Linked DNA regions of Homo sapiens. The protein of the gene in region 1 purifies or fractionates together with the protein of each later gene. This does not show direct contact. Each region holds a gene or a part of one and is shown in the gene's direction. Other genes may lie near its edges. The genes, in order: MME, TENM3, LEMD3 and PXMP2.

Region 1 (7,035 bases):
TTGGTTTAAAGTTTTTAACACATCTCCAGTTGAGGTGAAAGATTTTAGGAATACAGGTATGTTTTTGCATACCCTGCTTTATACAGGACTACAAGTATCAACTTGGTAACTTTTTGTACTATTTTGTTTACTTATCCCCCTTACTCCCCTCTTAAATGGGATTGGGCGTGGTTAGGTTGGATATTCAGGTATCTTTTGGTACAGTGAGTGACCATTTTCAGAATGTTGTCTAACCAGTTAATAGATACTGGTATCAGTAGTAGTAGTAATTTTGAACTGTAAAAATAAAGGTTGTTTTTATGACTAAAATAAACTACTTCATGTGTTCATTCGTTTTGCTGTTTATCTATATTAATATTTCAAATTATTGCTTAGTCAAAACCTCAAGGTATTAGTCACTGGTTTTTGAGCTTATAAAGGAAGCCACTGGAGCAAGATATAAAATTAACCATTGATGTTAGTCCAGAGTTCAAAAGGGTGAGTTTAAAACTTTCTTAATGATGGTACAGCAATTATTTGCTTATAAACTGCTGAATTAATCCTACTTGAGTATTTAACCAAGTCTTACTGTCTAATTTTGCTGAGATTTTCAGTGATATACCAAAGCAAAACAAAACAAAACAACAGCAACAAAAAACAAAAGGTTGTGACTGAGACCTGTCAAATTCATTTGGCTCTATATACTTTGCATTCAGCAACAAAATTTTGACTTCTCAACAGCAAAAATGTATTTCTATTTTAAAATAACTGAGCCTTTTACTTTTATCCAGCCACATTAAGCATTTGGACATTTTCTTTTTTATTTATTTGTTTTTCATTATTAGTATTTTCATTTTTTGCAGATTTTAGGTGATGGGCAAGTCAGAAAGTCAGATGGATATAACTGATATCAACACTCCAAAGCCAAAGAAGAAACAGCGATGGACTCCACTGGAGATCAGCCTCTCGGTCCTTGTCCTGCTCCTCACCATCATAGCTGTGACAATGATCGCACTCTATGCAACCTACGATGGTGAGTTACTCCCACACCTGTGCATCCATAAGTGCAAAAGAGAAGGAAATCTTCCTCCATGCTTTTACCATCTATCCAACGAATGTGTTAAGGATAGAGGCACTTAAAGACTGACAAAGAGATTCATTTATAAAATGTAACATCAATATGTCAAAATAATTAACTTTGAAGTACGGTGCCTTTTATGTTTGAGCTAAGTTATTAATTGCAAGTATATTTAGTGCGCTCACGCTTACTTATGAGGAATCTAAAGTATGGTTTTATTTGATTAAAATATACACAATTTTATGGCCAGCTTTAGTAATAGTCATTAGTCAACTTTTGTTGTGTCATTGAAATTCTAAACGGCTTCACAGGAATTTAACAAATTTAATTTGAGTCTTGGAAGTTTTTTACAACAAGGATGAAAAAAGATTGATTGTTTAATGGTTAAAAAAATGATTACCAAGCAAAAACAACTGATTATTTCAATTTAATAGGCCTGGGGCTTCGTTGGTAGAGAAGATATAATAACACATTTTTCTTCATAATCAAAATTTTAAATTTAGATTTTACTTATTTTATTTTCTTATATTTTTTCTAACCACTGACAATGATATATAATGTTCAGTTTTTAGTTCTTGCTTTAAGAAATTGCTTATTTAATTGGCAGTTTTTAAAAGAACAAAAGAAAAATAGAAATTTAAAAATTTGTGTTGCCAATATTTATGTATATTCTCTCCTTTTTCTAGATGGTATTTGCAAGTCATCAGACTGCATAAAATCAGGTAAGAAATGGTTTTTACGTGTAATAGTTATACAACTGATGTATAATATTTAAAATTAAATGCTAATCTTAATTTGCTTTGTTTACACTTTTATTCATTGTAGATCAATTATTTATGTGTCTGGCTCTATAATCAATGGAAATAAAAATATATTTAAGTAGTAGATTAATTAACTTGTTTACTCTGAAAAATATATTACTATTTTCAGCCCTGGGCTGTATAGCAGGGCAATAGAAAACTATATCGCTATTTGTATGGAGCTTGCCATGTAGTTGAAGAAAGAAAATGAACACATATGAAATGGTAAGTTTCGTATCATTGTGTTAAATGTCTCAGTGCACCTCACTAGGTGGGTGAGAAGAAGGGAGTGAGATGTAGGCATGTAAATCTAGGTGGAGAAGTTAAAATCTGGGAAGAAATTTCATTTTATTTATTTTTTTTATTTTTTATATTTTGAGACAGAGTCTCGCTCTGTCGCCCAAGCTGGAGTGCAGTGGCGTGATCTCGGCTGACTGCAATCTCCGCCTCCCGGGTTCTAGCAATTCTCCTGCCTCAGCCTCCCAAGTAGCTGGGACTACAGGTACCCACCACCACGCCTGGCTAATTCTGTATTTTTGGTAGAGACGGGGTTTCACCATATTGATCAGGCTGGTTTCGAACTCCTGCCCTCAGGTGATCTGCCCCCCTCGGCCTCACAAAGTGCTGGGATTACAGGCGTGAGCCACCGCACCCAGCCTTAAATTTGGGAAGAACCTTGAAGCAGGGCTAGAATTTAGATGTGGCGGTGCAGAAGAGGGAATTCCAAACACAAAAGAAAGAAACTATGTTATTGAGAAGTAGTAAAAGTGTACGCTTGATAGAAGGACACATTATGGAGAACCTTGAAATCCATGTTTAGCCTTGATATTGTAATACAGGAGAAACAGATATTTTTGAACAGAGGAGTGATCAGGCCAAAGGTGAAAGATGATTCTGCGAATGTGAGGTTGACTGGATTGAGTGAAAAGGAGGGCAGGCAGGTGGGGGCTGCTTCTGTACTCCAAGTGTAAGCTGAAGAGGTTGGCCTGTGGTGAGAGAAGAGTACTATTGAGATAATGGGGAGGGAGAATTGGGTGACTCAGTAGAACTGACTTGCTAAATAAAATGAATGAATTGAGAATGATGCCAAGTTTTAAAACCCAAGGGACTAAAGAGAATGGAGGCAGCCCACACAGAAATAGAGAGGTTATGAGGTGGATGTGGATGTGTTTGGTCTAAGATGAAAATAGACAGGAGGAAGGTAGAGATGAGGTTTAAGAAGCTGGAATTTGGATTTGAGATCTGTCAGTTTAGGAGTGATAGTGGAAGCCTTGGAAGTATTTGAGTTCTCAAAAGAAGAGAAGAGGTTCAAGGGCTAAACTTAAGAAGAGGTTCAAGGGCTAAACAACATCAATGATTAGAAGAGAAGAAAAATAAGTCAGAGCAGAAAACAGAGAAGTGTATGAAGCTATATAAATCCCATCAATTGGAGTGTGGTGAAAATGGGAGTATTTCTTCTTTCTTCAAGAAAAAGGAAGGTGGTAGCTGAGGGCAGCACCTGGGATATGAACACAATATTTGTGTCCTTTAACAAGAGATTCTAAACCTCCTTTCTAACATCTATGTGTCTTATAAGAAATAAATAAACTGTTCCAAATAATTTTAACCATTTTCTGCTGGATATTTTTAATTTTATTTATTTATTTATTTGAGGCAGGATCTTGCTCTGTCACCCAGGCTGGAGTGCAGTATTGTGATCACAGCTTACTGCAGCCTTGATCTCCTGGGCTCAAGGCATCCTCCTGCCTGAGCCTCCTGAGTAGCTGGGACTATAGGCACCTGCCACCATTCCTGGCTAGGTTGTGGGTTTTTTGTTTTTTTTGTTTTTTTTTGTTTTTTTTTTTTGTAGAGACAGGGTCTCACTATGTTGCCCAAGCTTGGTCTTGAACTCCTGAGATCAAGCAGTCCTCCTACTTGTCTTCCCAAAGTGCTGGGATTACAGGCATGAGCCACTGCACCCAGTCTTGGATATTCTTTACTTGGATTTTTGTTATTCACTGAACTTTGCAAAAAAATGACGGGAAAATATCTGGCAATTCTAGGTTATAGTCTAATATCCTGAATCTGTGCCCTTTGGTTTTTTTTTTTTTTTGTATCGTTTTTTGATGGATTTTTTTGCTCTGGGTCACAAGAGCAATGACTAGACACCCTGAGATGTGATGTGGGGAGCGTGAGGGAGACTTGATTTAGATGTTAGCCATTTGCTGCTCGACATAGTAAGTTTTTCCCAAAAACGAAGTTTCTTTATTCCCCAGGGAAATGGCTGCACAGGTACCTTGGCTGGGGGATCTCCGTGGTCATGTGCAAAAGTCAGCATGTGCCCAAGTTGTCAAAGTTAACGTTTACTTCCTCCCCAGATCCTCCTATGCTTCCTCTCTCTACCAGCTACCCTATTATATGCTCAGGCTGTCCTGTTTCGGGAAACTTCCACTTACATATTGACTACTAAGGGTTAATTCCTCTGTCTTTAATACACTTGACATGTCTCTTTGGTATCTTAATCTATAGATTCTCTCTTCTCTCACTATTTTTCCTTTTTCTCTTCTTTTCCTTGAATTTTATTTTCGAAGAAACTGGATTTTTTGACTAGGTAGGTGTATTTCTATAAACGACAAGTGATTTTGCCTCAGAGATCTAGGCAGGTTTTTCCTCCCAAGGAGCAATGTGACATTCAGAATCTGGAATCTTAAATGTGACTTAATGTTTAGAGATAGGATTTTTAAATAGTGTTTGGCAAGTCTCAACTCACTAAAATGTATTTAACCTGTATCCTTTAATTGTAGCTTAGAAATCAAACCAAATGTAAAACACCTTGCAGGATGTATCTTGGCAGAGAAATGTATACAATAGAAATAACTTCAGTGGTAAACAAGGTTGCTGTATAGCTGTATATTTTTCTTCATTCTGCTCTGTTGGTTCACAAGCCATTAGAATACTTGTTCACATTGGTAGTTACTATTCTTCCTAGGAGAATAAATAAGATGACACACACCCTCATGGATACACTCTGCATACTCATAAACACACACACTCGTGCGCGCACACACACACACACACACAGTCTTCTGCTGGTTAGGAAATCTTTTCTGCCACAGAAAAATACAACTATTTCTTTTAGAAGTTGTTGCAAATTAGGAAAACCCTAGAGGAAATCTTGGACAAAAGCAAGTATTAAAGAAGAGTGGCCAGAGTAGAGTAGATGGAAAGAAAAAGAAATGTGAAAAGAGAAGGCTGGGCACGGTGGCTCACGCCTGTAATCCCAGCACTTTGGGAGGCTGAGGCGGGCAGATCACCTGAGGTCGAGAGTTCAAGACCAGCCTGACCAACATGGAGAAAACCCATCTCTACTAAAAATACAAAATTAGCCGGGTGTGGTGGCGCATGCCTGTAATTCCAGCTACTCAGGAGGCTGAGGCAGGAGAATTGCTTGAACCCAGGAGGTGGAGGTTGCAGTGAGCTGAGATTGCGCCATTGCACTACAGCCTGGGCAACAAGACTGAAACTCCATCTCAAAAAAAAAAAAAAAAGAAAAGAAAGAAATATGAAAAGAGAGATGTTGAAAAAATATAAAATATCTTACCAGCAAGTCTATAGGTCACTTTAAGAGAGTGGGTGGGTTCAAACCTGAGCTCAGAAATTCTTGAGAATGGGAAAAGCAAGTATTGACACTCAGGGTGCTTACATTATATGAAAGATGGCCCCAACTTGAACCTTTCTTCCAGTGGAAGGGAATGTCATAGCAAATGTACTTATCTTTGATTCTTTGAAGTCAAGGAATACAGAAGTCAAGCCATACCAAGACAGAAGTAAAATATTGCAGAAGGCTGTTTCAAATCTGTTTGGTGTTACATATTTAAAATCTGAGCATCTAGGATTTAAATATTTATGATGTACATAAAATGATGTTTATGTATACTTTAAATTAACTTGCCTATATGTGTAATGCATCAGTATGAAAGATTACACCAGACCTAAAGTAAAACAAATACCACTTAAGAAATAACAACTTAAGGCAGGGATCAAAATGCTTCAAAGTATTATTCATCGCTTATTTACCCTATAAGGTCATCAAAAACTTAGAGTTATAAAACTTGTATGTGATTTTGCAGACTTTTCCGTGTAAGTCTGAATCCTGAAACTGATTTCCATTGCATTGTAACCTCCCTAACTTAGATTTCAAGGAATCTTGTGCTTTAAATCAGGGTTTCTCAACTCAATCACTATTGATATTTTTGTGCTAGATAATTCTTCGTTGTGGATGCTATTCTGTGTATTATAGGATATTTAGTAGCATCCCTGGCCTCTACCAACTAGATGTCCAGTAGCAGTCCTCTCCTAGTTGTGACAACCAAAAAATGTCTCTAGCCATTACTAAATGTCCCCTGCAGGCAGCACGGTCACTTATGACTGGGTACCACTGGTTTAAACGGTCTCAAGATGTTATCAATGCTTCCCTCTTAACGGTAGGCAGGATAATGGCCTCTCAAAGATATTCACACCCAATTCCCAGAGCCTCTGAATATGTTGCCTTATATGGCAACATGCCTGTAATCCCAGCACTTTGGGAGGCCAAGGCGGGTGGATCACTTGAGGTCGGGAGTTGAAGACCAGCCTGGCCTACATGGTGAAACCCCATCTCTGCTAAAAATACAAAAATCCAGGCATGGTAGCACGCGCCTATAATCCCAGAGGGAGGAGAATTGCTTGAACCCAGGAGGCAGAGGTTGAAGCGAGCCAAGATTGCACGACTGCACTCCAGCCTGGAAGACAGCGCAAGACTCTATCTCCAAAAAAAAGAAAAAGACAACAGAGAATTGAGGGGTCTGCAGAAGCATATGTTAGAAGTGTGGTCCTAAATTATCCAGAGGCCAGAGAAGCCAAGCTAAGACGTGATCAATACAGTTTACAAGAGAAAGTGGGACCACCTCCACCTGTATAGTCATGCAGGTTGTACACTGCATATTTGTCGATGGCAGCCTTGACAGACAGGCTTGTGGAACATCAAGACCTGGATGAAACACCTCTCAGAACTGTCCACTCCTTTTATTTTAATTCTGCACATACCAAGAAAACTTTTGATGATTACTTAATTATTAATACAAGGAGAGGTGGCATTCTGTTACTTGAAAGATATTTTCATCATGGTGAGATAATGCACAGCGGTCCCCTTCTTATCCT
Region 2 (4,158 bases), on another chromosome or scaffold:
CCACGATGAGTGAGCCATTTGGGGGTTCCAGAGCATCGGGATCACCTTGAGGGGGAGGGATCTCGAGTGCTCCCTCCACCCGGGCTGTCAGCCTTCTGGTCAGGGAAGGACCCCGGGGCTTCCATGCATGCCCCGGCGCTGCCCCCAGAGTCCCGTGTGTGGGTCAGGAGTGGGGAGGCTCCCGGCCGCCTCTGACGCGCCCCCTCTTTTGTTTCGCCCGCAGCCCATCTTCGGAGTCCAGCAGCAAGTGGCGCGGCAGGCCAAGGCCTTCCTGTCGCTGGGGAAGATGGCCGAGGTGCAGGTGAGCCGGCGCCGGGCCGGCGGCGCGCAGTCCTGGCTGTGGTTCGCCACGGTCAAGTCGCTGATCGGCAAGGGCGTCATGCTGGCCGTCAGCCAGGGCCGCGTGCAGACCAACGTGCTCAACATCGCCAACGAGGACTGCATCAAGGTGGCGGCCGTGCTCAACAACGCCTTCTACCTGGAGAACCTGCACTTCACCATCGAGGGCAAGGACACGCACTACTTCATCAAGACCACCACGCCCGAGAGCGACCTGGGCACGCTGCGGTTGACCAGCGGCCGCAAGGCGCTGGAGAACGGCATCAACGTGACGGTGTCGCAGTCCACCACGGTGGTGAACGGCAGGACGCGCAGGTTCGCGGACGTGGAGATGCAGTTCGGCGCGCTGGCGCTGCACGTGCGCTACGGCATGACCCTGGACGAGGAGAAGGCGCGCATCCTGGAGCAGGCGCGGCAGCGCGCGCTCGCCCGGGCCTGGGCGCGCGAGCAGCAGCGCGTGCGCGACGGCGAGGAGGGCGCGCGCCTCTGGACGGAGGGCGAGAAGCGGCAGCTGCTGAGCGCCGGCAAGGTGCAGGGCTACGACGGGTACTACGTACTCTCGGTGGAGCAGTACCCCGAGCTGGCCGACAGCGCCAACAACATCCAGTTCCTGCGGCAGAGCGAGATCGGCAGGAGGTAACGCCCGGGCCGCGCCCGCCGAGCCGCTCACGCCCTGCCCACATTGTCCTGTGGCACAACCCGAGTGGGACTCTCCAACGCCCAAGAGCCTTCCTCCCGGGGGAATGAGACTGCTGTTACGACCCACACCCACACCGCGAAAACAAGGACCGCTTTTTTCCGAATGACCTTAAAGGTGATCGGCTTTAACGAATATGTTTACATATGCATAGCGCTGCACTCAGTCGGACTGAACGTAGCCAGAGGAAAAAAAAATCATCAAGGACAAAGGCCTCGACCTGTTGCGCTGGGCCGTCTGTTCCTTCTAGGCACTGTATTTAACTAACTTTAAAAAAGAAAAAAAAATGTGTACAGTGTTTCCAAATAGTCCCGAATTGTCGACCTTTGCTTACAAGAAGTAGTCTGTCTGCATAGGATGTGATAGCTATCTCTGTTCATTTTACAATGTGGGGCAAAGTTACTGTTTCTAGACAACCCAACTGCTTTCCCTGTGCAGCTTTGTAGAAGGACATTGGCACAGTGACTTCTGCGGCGGGGATTTATTAATGGATTTTACAATGCTAACGTGGTTTCCCTTCGGGGAAAAAACTGGCAACTAGAATCCTTGTCACTGATAAGCAAAGGAAATCCTGATTTTTTTGTAAATTATGTGAGACAAGTTGTTTATGGATTTTTATATGAATTACAATTTACTGTACATCAAATCTTAGTCTCAGAGGAGTTAATTTATGTAAAGTGTTTAAAAATTTATACTTAAAAATAAAATGATAAAAACGTGAACTGTGTGATTTTTTTAAAAGGATTGCACCTTTTGTTATCTGTTATAGCTGTACAGTATGAATTATTATATTGTAGAGATATAACAACTTATGCCTATAATGTCCAGAAGTGTTAATATTTTTGTATTAGGTTGAAAAAATGTGCAAGCTTCTATCACTAGATGGATAGGACCGTGCAATTCTAGGTGGGTGGCGAATCAGAGAGCTCCTTTCTCTTCCCTCTCTCACGCATCAGGCCAGTGTCCTCAGCATTGTCAACTGAGAGGCACAGTAGACAACTAGGGCTGGTGGAATGTAAGGGAAGAAGATTGAAAAAACGGGAGGAAGGGTTCTCTGGCCCTCTCTCAACCTTGCAAGTCAATGGGGAGTTGTTGATATAATTAACCCCGAGGTTTTTACTGTTACTGTTCCAAAGCTCTGTCTCTTGATGGAGGAGAGACCACATCAGATGCTGGGGAAATAGGAGGAGGAAAGGTTCTGATGTAGTCGTGATCCTAAACACGTGTCTTAAGATCTAGGAAAGACAGCAGAAACCGAGCAGTGGTGGGTGAGCCAGATGGAGCCGGTCAGGGTTACTCTAAGCCCACATGACCAAACCATCTTGGGGGGCTGGTTTGAATGACAGCCTCTGCTCTGTCTCGGGGAAGCCGGGGGTGGCAGATCCAGCTGGAAGTGAACTGACAGCCGCGCCCTCCTGCACACATGCATGCACGCGTGTGGGAACGAGCCCAGCCGCCATCTGCACTTCCGTGTCGGCTCAGCTCTGACAAATCTCTTTCCTGAGCACTAAATTCAGCCACGAAAATATTTTTAGAAGATATTTCTCAGTTCATCGAGCTATAGTACACACTGTTTTCCTCTATGTATAATGGTGATAAAATATAGCAAGTGAACATGTCGTAAATATAAAGGTTCAAGTGATGTATTGAAAATAATTTTCTAACTGCTTTGTATGTATCACATACTCTAAATTGCACAGTAGGCGTGTTTATTAAACAGATGATTGGCTGGGAAAGTTTCAAAATAGCTACTGAATTTACAGTATCAGTGCTATTACTGTCTTTGTGTATTTGGTAGAGCATACCGAAGTAATTAATCTTCTAATGAATGCTGATGATATTTTATTAGAATGAAAGCACAGATTAGCATTAATATTTTTTATTCTGGAAATCCTTTGGCAAGTATTATGAAGCCCAAATTTAGAAAACTATGAGATTTCAAACCACATAAACATGATTCTGTTTTCCATTTTATTTTTTAACTGTTAGGTATTTGCAGTTCTGTTCCGTGGAACTTCTGCAGGCCTGTATTTAGCATGCTGTAAGTACTTTTGGGTGAAATAGGCTCTGAGTCTAAATTCTCAGACATGTTTCTGATGTATTACCATGAAAAGCTTGTGCCACATGACAGAAGTGAGATCATAGTCTTAACCTCTTCTTGACGTGGACTGGTCTTCACTCGGGCACCGATAAATAACAGATTTGGAGTATCTCCTGGTGCTTATTTTAGATGATGAAGTCAAATCAACCCAATTAGTGTCCTGTTAGTAGGTATAATGAGCCTATTTCTTTCTAAAAAGACTTGTGATCTGGACATGCTTTTACAAGAAATAGTGACCTTGGGGAATATGTAAACAAAAGACCTTTTTCTAAGAGTTGGGAGGGGGTGGGGGACTGTATAATGAAAAGAATTAGCTTACAAAAAAGAAATTGATATTCAAAGTATTTTAGGCAAAGCCAGTCAAAATGCTTTCATGATATTTTGAGATGTAAATTTTGTCTGATTTGTATTGTTCTTTTCATTTGCCTTCTTAACTTTATATGTGACCTGAATTTTCCATAACTTGATGACTATAGATTGCACCTAGGCATTCCAATAAAAGCCAACCCAATGTGTGTGTGTTTTTATATTTTTTCAAGTCTTGGGCTAGCCAGCATTGCTTTTGTGTTTAACGTGGAGGACGCAAATAGATGCAGTTGTTGGGGAATTGATTCATCTGCAACCCAGTTGGTAGTATCTTTTTTTTTTTTTTTTTTGTCCATTGGCCAGACTGCTGGCTCAGCAGAGTGAACTTCACAGGGGACTCTCCCATGGCCTACTTTAGAAAAACAGTAAACACACCCCCACAAAGCCAAACACGCTAACTGTAAAGAAGAGTTTACAAAAATACCACCCATTACTACTTGAGAGCAGGCCTCATTCCTGTGATCCTGGCAATAAGTGTGCTTAATTAAAACACTTGATTAGAATAATCAGTTTGGGCCTGGTAGGCTTGCAGCCTCCTGGAGATGTCTAAATCTACATATAGACCGGCTGATTAGAAGATGCTTAGTTCAGCAATTCTGGCCGGCAGGCCAGGGCTTTGATTTTAGTCGGAAGAGGCAGACTTCATCACACTTGC
Region 3 (7,035 bases), on another chromosome or scaffold:
CAGCTATCTATATTCATTTATATTAGGTGTTATAAGTAATCTAGAAATGATTTAAAGTATAAAGAATGATGTGCATAGGTTATATGCAAATACTATGCAATTTTATATCAGGGACTTGAACATCTGTGGATTTTGGTATCCATGGGGCATCCTGGAACCAATCCTCTGTGAATACTGAGGTATGACTGTATATATAAATTAAATGTTGTAGTTTTATTTTTTTAAGCAGATAGCTGTTTAGCTCTCATCATGATTATTTCTAAGTTCATAATATCCATTGAAATGATCTCATATATAAACCTTTTTTCAATCATTAAATACATTGTCTGCAATTTTTTTGATGTTTGTAAATGCTATAATAAACACCCAAGCTTAAAAAAACAGATGGCCTATAGTTATCTTCACCATCTTAAAAATCCTAATAGTAGTTTCATGTAATGATGCCTAACAAGATTAGTTCTGCTTTATAAAACTTTTTATTACATTTGCAAATTTGATACATTAGAATAACTTACCAGTTTTATATTAGGAAGTAAACTATACTGATCAAATGAAAACCTTATAATTTCCAATGCTGTTGAAGAATCTGTTGATAAAATACAATAGGACACTTCTTAGAAAAATCTTTTTTTTAGAGAGAATTTGAAATGACTTTTTATTTCTGTTTTTAGAAATTCATTTTTTCCTCTACGAGCCAGGCACAGTGGCTCATGCCTGTAATCCTAGCACTTTGGGAGGCCAAGGCAGGCGGATCACTTGAGGCCAGCAGTTCGACACCAGCCTGGCCAACATGGCGAAACCCCATCTCTACTACTACTAAAAATACAGTGATTAGCTGGGTGTGGTGGCACACGCCTGTAGTATCACAGTTACTTGGGAGGCTGAGGCACAAGACTGTGCTTGAGCCCTGGAGATGGAGGTTGCAGTGAGGCGAGTTCGCACCACTGCACTCCAGCCTGGGTGACAGAGCAAGACTCTGTCTCAAAAAAAAAAAAAATTCATTTTTTGCTCAAAAGGGACATAAAGACATACTAATAATACAAGCTCCATGAACACAGGGAATTTTTCACTGTGTTGTTTATGCTGCACCTCTAGTTTCTAAAATAGTACTTGGCACATGGTAAAGGTGTTTATAACAGTATTATATTTGATAAATTTTTAAAAATTGGACATATTCTAAATGTTCATTAATAAGGTGTTGATTAAAAGTATAGAATAATCATACAATGGAATACTATTTTGTTGAAAAAAATAGGGTTTTTTCCATGTAAACTGACATTGACACAATATTTTGTTCCATGAAGAAAACAAGTAGAACAGTAGTATGTGTAATATGATACCACATTTATTTTTACTATTTTAATTTAAAAATACTCTACCCACACATAGCAGTTCTTAAGCTTTTTGGTTCCCTATAATTACTGAGGACTCTGGCTTTTGTTTGTGGGAGATATACATTTATATGTTTTTGTTTCTATTAGAAAGATATATTTACTTTCTAATGGTAAATATGTATTACAAATACATGTTTATATTAAAAATTAAAACTGAAAAAAATTTATGTATTTAGAATAAGAAAAATGAATCTATTATATGTTAACGTAATGTATTTTTATGAAAAATAACTTTTCCAGAATGAAAACATTCAATGAGAACAGTGGCATTGTTATATATTTTATAAATCTCTTAAATGTGTAGCTTAATAAAAGGTGACTGGATTCTTATCTGCTTCTTTATTCAATCTGTCATGATGTTTTAGTTGAAGTATGTCATGAAAATCCAGCCTCACATTGATATGTAGTCAAAACATTGGAAAGTATTTTAGTTGCCTTTTCAGGTAATTGTAGATAGATATTTTCTTTGATACCATACCAAACCTCTATAAGTAGTAGTTTCTTAAATGTTAGTTGCAATGTGGAATGTCAGACTGTGCCAGTGAACTTTTTGTACTCTTGTCTCATAAAATCCTTTTATTTTGTACTTTGAATGGATCTTTTACCTATGCGTGATTGGTTTTTATAAAAATCAGAATTTTTCAAATGCATTGGTCATTTTCAGATGCATTGGTCACATTTCATTATTCCATATCAAAAAACTGCATTTGTTAATGTCACACAAATCTCATTGGAAAGGTCTTCAAGTATTGTGAAGTTGTCCAGGTCACAAAGATGAATGCTAGTTTTTCAAAATTCTACTTTTTACTTGAATGCTCAAATCTTATAATTGGTAACCCGGTCAGTTTTTCTTTAGTTGATAGGCTTACTGCTTTTATGTGTTGAGAATACTTGTCTGTGAAACATCCAAATCTGGAAGAGTTTGCCATTTATTTGTTCATCTATAAATAATATTGCATTTTTAAAAGTGGTAAATTCACTCTTATGATGGCACTGATAAACTAATGATAAAAAAAGAACTTCCAAGCCAGGCGCAGTGGCTCATGACTGTAATCCCAGCACTTTGGGAGTCCAAGGCTGGCGGATCACTTGAGGTCAGGAGTTTAAGTCCAGCCTGGCCAGCATGGTGAAACCTCGTCTCTCTAAAAGTACGAAAAAAGAAAATTAGCTGGGCCTGGTAGCTGATGCTTGTAATCCCAACTACTTGGGAGGCTGAGGCAGGAGAATTGCTTGAACCCAGGAGGCGGGGGCTGCAGTGAGCCAAAATTGTCCCACTGCACTCCAGCCTGAGTGAGAGAGACTCAGTTCCCAAATATGTAAAATATAAAAAAGCAAAATATTAACACTGATTATATTGGAGTAGTGGGAAAATGCTAACTTTTTTTTTCTTTTTTCTCATTCTTTTTAAAATTTTCTGTAATGAATATTTTATGTTATGTAGTTAAAATAAAAATGTTATATAGAGTGTGTTATAAAGGATACTTTACAGAGAGTCGAATGTAGATTAAGAATAGTTATTTTTCTCTATTTTTCTTGTTAGGATTTAGGTCCTGAATATGAAGGTATATTTAACACTTCATTGCAGTGGATCTTAGAAAATGGAAAAGATGTTGGAATAAGGTAAAGGATCTGATTTCCACTTTGACCATTCTGTACTGGGAGAAATGGTTTTTGACTTTAAATTCTACCTTACTTATTTTTAAATAGGTGTGTTGGTTTTGGCCCTGAGGAAGAATTGACAAATATAACTGATGTGCAGTTTTTACAGTCCACAAGACCACTGATGTCTTTTTGGTGTCGTTTTCGACGTGCTTTTGTTACTGTAACTCACAGATTATTGTTGTTATGCTTAGGTAAGTTGTAAAGATAAGAAATGAGATAAATTGCAGCCTGAATTTTTGTGTGTATTTCACTAAATGCCAGAGTTGAGAATTCATTTTTGTGATGGTTGCCACATAAGTCACAGCTAGATGTCTTCACTAAATATAATAAAAATAATGTCAGAATCATTCTAAAGGCTTAGAAAGCAGTAATATAAGGAGAGGTAGAAATAAAACTTTGTTATAAGACTGTCACAGAAAAACAAGTGTGGTCAGTATATACATAGAAATCTACTTTAGAAAGTAGAATTGAAAAATACAAAAATTGAGCTTATTTTTAAATAATAAAGTGTTATAAAGTTTATTAAAATTTAGTTTTTAAAATGTAATTTACCTACATTTAAAATTTTTATCATTTTTTAATTGATAATAGGGATTTAGGTGAGAGTTGTTTTTTCATTCTTTCTTTCTTCTTTAAAAATAATTCATTTTGGCCAGCTTTAGTGGCTCACACCTGTAATCCCAGCACTTTGGGAGGCAGGAGGATTGCTTGCACTCAGGAGTTTAAGACCAGCCTGGGAAGCATAGACCCTACCTCTACAAAAAAATTTTTAAAATTAGACAGGCATAGTGGCACGTGCCTGTAGTCCCAGCTACTTGGGAAGCTGAGGTAGGAGGATTTCTTGAGCCCAGGAGTTGGAGGCTGCAGTTAGCCATGATTGCACTACTGCCCTCCAGCCTGGATGACAGAGTAAGACCCTATCTCAAAAACAACAACAACAAAAGAAAAATTCATTTTACTTAAAGTAAGATTTAGTATGTTTAATCTCATGAGGTTCACTTTTCTAGTCGTTTTATGCTTCAAAGGAAAAAAGTTTGTGAAACATAGTTATATATATATATTTTTAAATAGTAGTTAGAATTTAAATGTTCACTTATCAGTGTAATGGAAGAAATGCTTTTTTCTAGAAAGTGAATCTTTGGAAAATGTTCAGTATTAAATTTTTTTATGTAGTTTTAATTATATAGCTAATTCAGCCATCTGTCTTGAAGGTTCATTCCGTTGTGGCAGTTAAAATAATCACTGAAATATTATTGAATGATATTGACCACAATTTTTAAAATACAAAGTATATTAATATTACAGGTGTAGTGATGGTTTGTGTCGTTCTGCGTTACATGAAATATCGATGGACAAAAGAAGAGGAGGAAACAAGGCAGATGTATGATATGGTGGTAAAGATTATAGGTATGATATTTGTAAGAATCTCAACTATTTCTAGAAGAGTCATTGCATGATTAAACTACATTATGTCAAGTGATTGATTCATTTGTAAATTTTATTTATTTTTAGATGTTTTACGAAGTCATAATGAAGCCTGCCAGGAAAACAAAGATTTACAACCTTACATGCCTATTCCACATGTACGCGATTCCTTAATACAGCCTCATGACAGGTGTGTTCAAAGCATTATGAGTTCAAGTAAATCAGAAAATTTAAGTGCTTTCTGCAGTATTGAAAATTATATTGAGAGCTGTGACCCTTCTCAACTAGACTTGCTTACTGCACAGGTTTTTTTTGGTTTTGCTTTGTTTTTGTACTTTATACTCTCTTTCTAAATTCTCTTCCATTCTCCTGATTTTGAGTGACACCTGGATTTCTAAGTCATTCTCATTCCTAGGCATTCTTGATTCTTTGTTGTTAGTCTCCATCTTATTTCCTTTAATTTCATCTTGATAAAGAAATAGATGACAGCCAGTGGCTGGTGTTTTACTAATGTTTTTTAAGTACTAACTTTATTATTAATGAAGCTTTTAAAGTAAAAACTAAAATGCAACTTTTTGAAAATAAAAGATAATTCCATATCCTGAAGCAGCATCTTGACCCTAGCAACACATAAAGCCAGTGGAGCTTTTGGGGAAAAAAAATACAGATGTTTGTGCTCTAGCTCTGGAAATTGAAACTCAGAAAATCTGAGATGAGATATAGGCATCTAAATCTTCTTTGAACAAACTCCATGAGTAGTGGTAAGAACAGCTAGAGTTAACTATTACCTCAGATACTAATATTTCAAAAAGATGACAAGCCAAGATGATAGTAAATTTGCCATTTTGTTCACATGATAGGAAAAAAATGAAGAAAGTCTGGGATAGAGCTGTTGACTTCCTTGCTGCTAATGAGTCTAGAGTTCGCACGGAAACACGAAGAATAGGTGGTGCAGATTTTCTGGTTTGGCGGTGGATCCAGCCTTCTGCATCCTGTGACAAAATATTAGTTATACCTTCTAAAGTATGGCAAGGTCAAGGTATGTATTTTTAAACATCAAAAAAGTAATTTTCTTCTAATTTTTCAAAATGACAAATATGTGTTAAGTGAAACAGTACAATTCAAAGATGTATGAAGGCAAAACTCTCTCGTTCTGTTTCGTAGAAGGAATCAGTGTTAGCTTCTTATGTATCCTTCCACACTTTTATCTTTGCTAATGCAAACATAAATGGTTTATCTTTAATAAAGATGAATATTCCTTGAATCTTGCCTTTTTCACTTAATGAAGCAACTTAGTATTATATATATTAACTGCATTCTTTTCATCTAATTTCTTTATGTAAATAAGACACATAATTTATGTTATATATACAATAAAATATATATAAACTATATATGTATATAAGTGAAGTCATAACTTTTTAACTGCTCTTTTTTTTCCAGTTTTTGCCTGCCTCCTCTTACTAAGACCTTTCTATTTATATATTCCTCCTGCCAAGTAACTTTTGTGGGTATCTTTCCATATTTTTCTTAATGCCTACATAGTTTCAAAAACATGTATAAATAAGAAAGGGGTAAGTTTATAGGGGGTTTTGAAGATTGGCTGTCATATGTACCCAAACCTTTACTACACAGAAAAGCAGAAAACAATGCATCAGAAAATTATGACTTTTTCCCTATAAAAGTATGTCAGTATTTGCTAAACATAGTATTTGTGGAAAAGGTAAGTTGTTTTGGACATGCAATACAAAGTCCAGTCACTCCTTTTTTATTCTCCAATTAATTTTCACTTTGAAAAAGCTTGAATAAGAGGCTTCTTTAAACATGGCATAAAAGTGATGCTCTGTCAGGGTAAACAGCTAAAGCAGGCAGGGCTTAATACCTGGGTGATGGGTTTGAGTTGATAGGTGCAGCAAACCACTATGACACACGTTTACCTATGTAACAAATCTGCATGTCCTGTACATGTATCCCAGAACTTAAATTAAAAAAATGATGCTTTCATGTTGCCAATGATTATACTATTTCCTCTAAATGATGCATGCATTTCAGTTTCCCTATAAACTGAAAATAGAGAATTCCTTATTTTACTTGACCTCTTAACAGTGTTTGACAGTTCAGCCCTCCTTGAAACTTTCTTCACTGGGATTTGGGGATGCCACCTTCTTCTGTTTTTTTTCTCCTACCTCAGACTTTTTCTTCAGTCCTTTTCTAGATTATCCTCTTTTTCTTCACCTCTAGGTGTTAGAGTTTCTCAAGGCCATCTTTTTTTTCCCACTCTGCCATTTCTCCCTAGATAATCGTCTTGCTGTGACTTAATTTACCATATTGGGATAACTCCCAAATTTTTTATTTTGAATGAAGTCTGGTTTTCAGATTTTTGTACCCAACTATATATTTCTGTACTAGGAGGTGGGCACCACAGATTCAACATGTACACCAGCCTGATCCTCTTCAGTGTTCCTAGTCTAGTTAATGATACCTTTCCTGAGTTGATTCTGCCATAAACTTAGGGATAATTCTTAATCTCTCCTTTATCCCTCTTTGTCCAACC
Region 4 (7,035 bases), on another chromosome or scaffold:
TTCTTTTTTTTTGGAGACAGAGTCTCACTCTGTCACCCAGGCTTACTGCAACCTCTGCCTCTCTGGTTCAAGTGATTCTCCTGCCTCAGCCTCTCAAATAGCTGGGATTACAGGCACACACCGCCATGCCCAGCTAATTTTTGTTATTTTTAGTAGAGATGGGGTTTCACCATGTTGGCCAGGCTGGTCTTGAACTCCTGACCTCAAGTGATCCACCTTCCTTGGCCTCCCAAAGTGCTGGGATTACAGTGCTAGGAGTACAGGCTCACATTTGTGGTTTTATCATGTTTCTTTTTAATTGGATGGGTAGGGGTGACTGTCTTAATTGGGCTGAGAGGCAAACCTGAGGACAAGTAACTCAACTTAACCTAAAGTCAGACTTCAGGATTCAAAAACCCTGAAAGCGTCCTAGACTGGGCTCATGGAAAGGGAAAACTGACTCCAATTTGACCAGTTAGTTTCTATTGTTATTTTAATTTTTTTTTTTTTTTTTTGAGACGGAATCTCACTCTGCTGCCCAGACTGGAGTGCGGTGGCGCGATCTTGGCTTACTGCAAGCTCTGCCTCCTGGGTTCACGCCATTCTCCCGACTCAGTCTCCCGAGTAGCTGGGACTACAGGCACCTGCCACCACGCCCGGCTAATTTTTTGTATTTTTAGTAGAGACGGGGTTTCACCATTCACAGGATGGTCTGGATCTCCTGACCTCGTGATCCGCCCACCTTGGCCTCCCAAAGTGCTGGGATTACAGGCGCGAGCCACAGTGCCTGGCCTCTATTGTTATTTTCATAGTGTAAACATCCAGAAAATAAATGCTTCGGTACCCTGAAAAATGTCCAGTTTCTGAACCACTTTCTGAGTTGCAAAAGCACAGTAATTCAAGAGTTTTACCAATTTAATCCACCGTGAGCTCTCGGCCAACAGTAATGTGAAGTATTTTCCAACTACAGTGATGTTTTCTTTAATTCAGAATTCCTGAAGATCATTTTTATACTTCCAAGCTTGCTAACTTGAGTCATCATGGATTTTTCCATACTGTATTTAAAGCAGTAATCCCCCCAAGAGGGGCAGGTGATGAGATCACCTAGCAGGCCTCATCCAAGTACAGTTTTCCCATCCACAGGACTTCAGTCCCCTTCCCCACTGAGAATCCCTGCATAGGCCACATAACCCCCTATGACTGGGTGGGAAAAAACACTGAGAACCACTTATCTAAAGACTGTCAACGTCACAAGTTGAAAGACCCCTCTTTTTGTTGCTGAATTTTATGGAACTGCAGGCCTCTTGTCCCAGTAGATGTGGCAGCTGGTTCCATTCTCTCCCAAACACACAGGGGAATGATTAGTAGCAACGCACACAACCTAGAGTGCTGCACCAGGTCCTGCCCTTGCCAGTTAGTTAGTGAGCTCCCTTGCCAGTTAGTTAGTGAGCACCCTTGCCAGTTAGTTAGTGAGCTCCCTTGCCAGTTAGTGAGCTCCCTGAGCCAGTTAGGTAGTGAGCTCCCTGAGCCAGTTAGTTAGTGAGCGCCCTTGCCAGTTAGTTAGTGAGCTCCCTTAGCCAGTTAGTTAGTGAGCTCCCTTGCCAGTTAGTGAGCTCCCTTAGCCAGTTAGTTAGTGAGCTCCCTTAGCCAGTTAGTTAGTGAGCGCCCTTAGCCAGTTAGTTAGTGAGCTCCCTGAGCCAGTTAGTTAGTGAGCTCCCTTAGCCAGTTAGTTAGTGAGCTCCCTTGCCAGTTAATTAGTGAGCTCCCTTAGCCAGTTAGTTAGTGAGCGCCCTTAGCCAGTTAGTTAGTGAGCTCCCTTGCCAGTTAGTTAGTGAGCTCCCTTAGCCAGTTAATTAGTGAGCTCCCTTAGCCAGTTAGTTAGTGAGCGCCCTTAGCCAGTTAGTTAGTGAGCTCCCTTGCCAGTTAATTAGTGAGCTCCCTTAGCCAGTTAGTTAGTGAGCTCCCTTGCCAGTTAGTTAGTGAGCGCCCTTGCCAGTTAGTTAGTGAGCACCCTTGCCAGTTAGTTAGTGAGCGCCCTTGCCAGTTAGTTAAGTGAGCGCCCTTAGCCAGTTAGATAGTGAGCGCCCTTAGCCAGTTAGTTAGTGAGCGCCCTTAGCCAGTTAGTTAGTGAGCGCCCTTGCCAGTTAGTTAGTGAGCACCCTTGCCAGTTAGTTAGTGAGCTCCCTTAGCCAGTTAGTGAGCTCCCTTAGCTAGTTAGAGAGCTCCCTTGCCAGTTAGTTAGTGAGCTCCCTTAGCCAGTTAGTTAGTGAGCTCCCTTAGCCAGTTAGTGAGCTCCCTTGCCAGTTAGTTAGTGAGCTCCCTTGCCAGTTAGTTAGTGAGCTCCCTTAGTCAGTTAGTTAGTGAGCGCCCTTGCCAGTTAGTGAGCGCCCTTGCCAGTTAGTTAGTGAGCTCCCTTAGCCAGTTAGTGAGCTCCCTTGCCAGTTAGTGAGCGCCCTTGCCAGTTAGTTAAGTGAGCGCCCTTAGCCAGTTAGATAGTGAGCGCCCTTAGCCAGTTAGTTAGTGAGCGCCCTTGCCAGTTAGTTAGTGAGCACCCTTGCCAGTTAGTTAGTGAGCTCCCTTAGCCAGTTAGTGAGCTCCCTTAGTTAGTTAGTGAGCTCCCTTGCCAGTTAGTTAGTGAGCTCCCTTAGCCAGTTAGTTAGTGAGCTCCCTTAGCCAGTTAGTGAGCTCCCTTGCCAGTTAGTGAGTGCCCTTGCCAGTTAGTTAAGTGAGCGCCCTTAGCCAGTTAGATAGTGAGCGCCCTTAGCCAGTTAGTTAGTGAGCGCCCTTGCCAGTTAGTTAGTGAGCACCCTTGCCAGTTAGTTAGTGAGCTCCCTTAGCCAGTTAGTGAGCTCCCTTAGTTAGTTAGTGAGCTCCCTTGCCAGTTAGTTAGTGAGCTCCCTTAGCCAGTTAGTTAGTGAGCTCCCTTAGCCAGTTAGTGAGCTCCCTTGCCAGTTAGTTAGTGAGCTCCCTTGCCAGTTAGTTAGTGAGCTCCCTTAGTCAGTTAGTTAGTGAGCGCCCTTGCCAGTTAGTGAGCGCCCTTGCCAGTTAGTTAGTGAGCGCCCTTGCCAGTCAGTGAGCGCCCTTGCCAGTTAGTGAGCGCCCTTGCCAGTTAGTTAGTGAGCGCCCTTGCCAGTTAGTTAGTGAGCTCCCTTAGCCAGTTAGTTAGTGAGCTCCCTTGCCAGTTAGTTAGTGAGCTCCCTTAGCCAGTTAGTTAGTGAGCGCCCTTGCCAGTTAGTTAGTTAGCTCCCTTAGCCAGTTAGTTAGTGAGCTCCCTTGCCAGTTAGTTAGTGAGCTCCCTTGCCAGTTAGTTAGTGAGCTCCCTTAGCCAGTTAGATAGTGAGCGCCCTTAGCCAGTTAGTGAGCGCCCTTGCCAGTTAGTTAGTGAGCGCCCTTGCCAGTTAGTTAGTGAGCTCCCTTAGCCAGTTAGTGAGCTCCCTTGCCAGTTAGTTAGTGAGCTCCCTTAGCCAGTTAGTTAGTGAGCGCCCTTGCCAGTTAGTTAAGTGAGCGCCCTTAGCCAGTTAGATAGTGAGCGCCCTTAGCCAGTTAGTGAGCGCCCTTGCCAGTTAGTTAGTGAGCGCCCTTGCCAGTTAGTTAGTGAGCTCCCTTAGCCAGTTAGTGAGCTCCCTTAGCTAGTTAGAGAGCTCCCTTGCCAGTTAGTTAGTGAGCTCCCTTAGCCAGTTAGTTAGTGAGCTCCCTTAGCCAGTTAGTGAGCTCCCTTGCCAGTTAGTTAGTGAGCTCCCTTGCCAGTTAGTTAGTGAGCTCCCTTAGTCAGTTAGTTAGTGAGCGCCCTTGCCAGTTAGTGAGCGCCCTTGCCAGTTAGTGAGCGCCCTTGCCAGTTAGTTAGTGAGCGCCCTTGCCAGTTAGTGAGCTCCCTTAGCCAGTTAGTTAGTGAGCTCCCTTAGCCAGTTAGTGAGCTCCCTTAGCCAGTTAGTTAGTGAGCGCCCTTGCCAGTTAGTTAAGTGAGCGCCCTTAGCCAGTTAGATAGTGAGCGCCCTTGCCAGTTAGTTAGTGAGCGCCCTTGCCAGTTAGTTAGTGAGCTCCCTTAGCCAGTTAGTGAGCTCCCTTAGCTAGTTAGAGAGCTCCCTTGCCAGTTAGTTAGTGAGCTCCCTTAGCCAGTTAGTTAGTGAGCTCCCTTAGCCAGTTAGTGAGCTCCCTTGCCAGTTAGTGAGCTCCCTTGCCAGTTAGTTAGTGAGCTCCCTTAGTCAGTTAGTGAGTGCCCTTGCCAGTTAGTTAGTGAGCGCCCTTGCCAGTTAGTTAGTGAGCGCCCTTAGCCAGTTAGTTAGCTCCCTTAGCCAGTTAGTGAGCTCCCTTAGCCAGTTAGTTAGTGAGCGCCCTTGCCAGTCAGTTAGTGAGCGCCCTTGCCAGTCAGTTAGTGAGCTCCCTTAGCCAGTTAGTTAGTGAGCTCCCTTGCCAGTTAGTTAGTGAGCTCCCTTAGCCAGTTAGTTAGTGAGCTCCCTTAGCCAGTTAGTTAGTGAGCTCCCTTAGCCAGTTAGTTAGTGAGTGCCCTTGCCAGTTAGTTAGTGAGCTCCCTTAGCCAGTTAGTTAGAGAGCTCCCTTGCCAGTTAGTTAATGAGCTCCCTTAGCCAGTTAGTTAGTGAGCGCCCTTGACAGTTAGTTAGTGAGCGCCCTTGACAGTTAGTTAGTGAGCTCCCTTAGCCAGTTAGTGCCCTTGCCAGTTAGTGAGTGCCCTTGCCAGTTAGCCTAGTGAGTGCCCTTGCCAGTTAGTTAGCCTAGTGAGTTCCCTTGCCAGTTTGTTAGCCTAGTGAGTGCCCTTGCCAGTTAACCTAGTGAGTTCCCTTGCCAGTTAGCCTAGTGAGTTTAATGAAAAGCTCCACAACCAGGGACATGTCTGATGATTCATTATTGAGTGCTTCTCGAAGCCTGGCCCTGTTCTGGGCACTGCAGTGGACAGAAGACGTAGCCTCCCTTGTGGAGCCTGCCTTCTAGGGGGGACGAGAGGCACAGACTAACCTAACATATGAGATAAGGACAGTGCTAGGCAGAAAATGAACCAGGGCCAAGAGTGTTAGCACAGGCGTGCACACGTGCTGGGACGACCTGGAAGCTGACAGTGTGAGGAGGAGCGAGCCAACATAGCTAGGCGGGGACGCGCTGGGAGCAGAGAGTCAACGGCAGGAGCAAGTCTGGTCTGTTAGAGCAACAGAGACAGAGCGCCCCTGAAGCCGACTTATCTGTACAGACCTGTGTGGCCAATACTGAGGGACATCAGGAAGCAGGGGTTAGGACCTGGGATTTGGGGGTGAAGCTAGACCAGAGAAGAGCACATCCAGAGAACCACAATCTGGCTCACACCCCCTGGGGGCCTCAGGTTCTTCTTCACAGGGCCGCTGAGTCACTTCTTCTACTTCTTCATGGAACATTGGATCCCTCCTGAGGTCCCCCTGGCAGGGCTCAGGAGGCTTCTCCTGGACCGCCTCGTCTTTGCACCGGCCTTCCTCATGTTGTTCTTCCTCATCATGAACTTTCTGGAGGTGGGTGTCTGCCACAGCACTTACTGCAGCTCTTCGTTTAGCACAGGGATTCTTCACCTGACATTCTCGGCAGAATTCAGAGGGTCTGCAGATTTTTCACTCAAATTGAAATTTTGCATTTTCTTTTATGAATATAGGAAGCAAACATCTAGTATTGGCAGGACCTGTTTGTACCCAGTAGAGTCACTTTATTTATTTATTTATTTAAAGACAGGGTTTCACTCTGTCACCCAGGCTGCAGTGCAGTAGCACAATCATAGCTCACTGCAAACCTCAAACTCCTGGGTTCAAGCGATCCTCTTGCCTCAGCCTCCCAAGTAGCTGGGACCACATGTGCGTGCCACCACACCCAGCTAATCAGATATTTTTATATCACATCAGTTGTTACAGATATCTCGAAATATAATTTATGCTCATTACTACTTGGACCTGCCATTAGAGGTCTTGTCACTGTGTAAAGAAAGAAACAGGCCGGGCACAGTGGCTCACACCTGTAATCCCAGCACTTTGGGAGGGCGAGGCGGGTGGATCACCTGAGGTCAGGAGTTCGAGACCAGCCTGGCCAACATGGTGAAACCTCGTCTCTACTAAAAATACAAAAAATTTAGCTGGGCACAGTGGCAGTCGCCTGTAGTCCCAGCTACTTGGGAGGCTGAGGCAGGAGAATGGCGTGAACCCGGGAGGTGGAGCTTGCCGTGAGCCGAGATGTCGCCACTGCACTCTAGCCTGGGTAATAGAGCCAGACTCCGTCTCAAAAACAAAAAACAAAACAAAACAAATTAGCCAGGTATGGTGGTGCGTGCTTGTAATCCCAGCTACTCGGGAGGCTGAGGCAGGAGAATCGCTTGAAGCCGGGAGGTGGAGGTTGTGGTGAGCTGAGATTGTGCCACTGCACTCCAGTCTGGGCAACAGAGCAAGACTCTGCCTCAAAAAAAAAAGAAAAAAGAAAAAAGAAACAGGGCCGGGCATGATGGTGCACACCTGTAATCCCAGCACTTTGTGAGGCCAAGGCCAGTGGATAGCTTGAGGCCAGGAGTTCGGGACCAGCCTGGGCAACATGGCGAATACCCATCTCTCAAAAAGTAAAAAATGAGCCAGTGTGGTGATGTGCACCTGTAGTTCCAGCTGTTTGGGAGGCTGAGGTGAGAAGATCCCTTGAGCCCAAGATGTGGAGGCTGCAGTGAGCAGAGATCACACCACTGCACTCCAGCCTGGGTAACAGAGCAAGACACTGGTTCAAAAGACAAAAATAAATAAATAAATAAATAAACACATTAGTCTGTCAAAATTTTTTCTGAATATTTTGATAACTGTATTTCAGTATTATTGGTTCCTTTGTAGTCCTATTTTATTTATTTATTTATTTATTTTTTATTTTTGAGGCAGAATCTCGCCCTGTTGCCCAGGCTGGAGTGCAGTGGTGCGATTTCAGCTCACTGCAACCTCTGCCTCCCGGGTTCAAACGATTCTCCTGCCTCAGCCTCCTGAGTAGCTGGGATTACAGGAGCCCGCTACCACACCCAGCTTATTTTTGTATTTTTAGTAGAGATGGGGTTTCACCATG

The links.
Region 2: the proteins of MME (region 1) and TENM3 purify together in Homo sapiens (affinity purification with mass spectrometry; 2 studies listed by BioGRID and IntAct, with this or other methods). This does not show direct contact.
Region 3: the proteins of MME (region 1) and LEMD3 purify together in Homo sapiens (affinity purification with mass spectrometry; 2 studies listed by BioGRID and IntAct, with this or other methods). This does not show direct contact.
Region 4: the proteins of MME (region 1) and PXMP2 purify together in Homo sapiens (affinity purification with mass spectrometry; 2 studies listed by BioGRID and IntAct, with this or other methods). This does not show direct contact.

What each region holds. Positions count from the first base shown.
Region 1 is NC_000003.12:155,083,316-155,090,350, forward strand, and holds part of MME (neprilysin), read left to right. Parts: exon of another isoform or gene 1-727; intron 728-842; 5' UTR 843-852; coding exon 853-1,012; intron 1,013-1,743; coding exon 1,744-1,779; intron 1,780-6,518; coding exon of another isoform or gene 6,519-6,565; exon of another isoform or gene 6,566-7,035. UniProt on the Homo sapiens protein: Thermolysin-like specificity, but is almost confined on acting on polypeptides of up to 30 amino acids. Biologically important in the destruction of opioid peptides such as Met- and Leu-enkephalins by cleavage of a Gly-Phe bond.
Region 2 is NC_000004.12:182,799,373-182,803,530, forward strand, and holds the end of TENM3 (teneurin-3), read left to right. Parts: intron 1-223; coding exon 224-979; 3' UTR 980-3,652; downstream 3,653-4,158.
Region 3 is NC_000012.12:65,235,568-65,242,602, forward strand, and holds part of LEMD3 (inner nuclear membrane protein Man1), read left to right. Parts: intron 1-2,934; coding exon 2,935-3,014; intron 3,015-3,101; coding exon 3,102-3,247; intron 3,248-4,361; coding exon 4,362-4,463; intron 4,464-4,568; coding exon 4,569-4,671; intron 4,672-5,341; coding exon 5,342-5,520; intron 5,521-7,035.
Region 4 is NC_000012.12:132,690,576-132,697,610, forward strand, and holds part of PXMP2 (peroxisomal membrane protein 2), read left to right. Parts: intron 1-5,308; coding exon 5,309-5,471; intron 5,472-7,035. UniProt on the Homo sapiens protein: Seems to be involved in pore-forming activity and may contribute to the unspecific permeability of the peroxisomal membrane.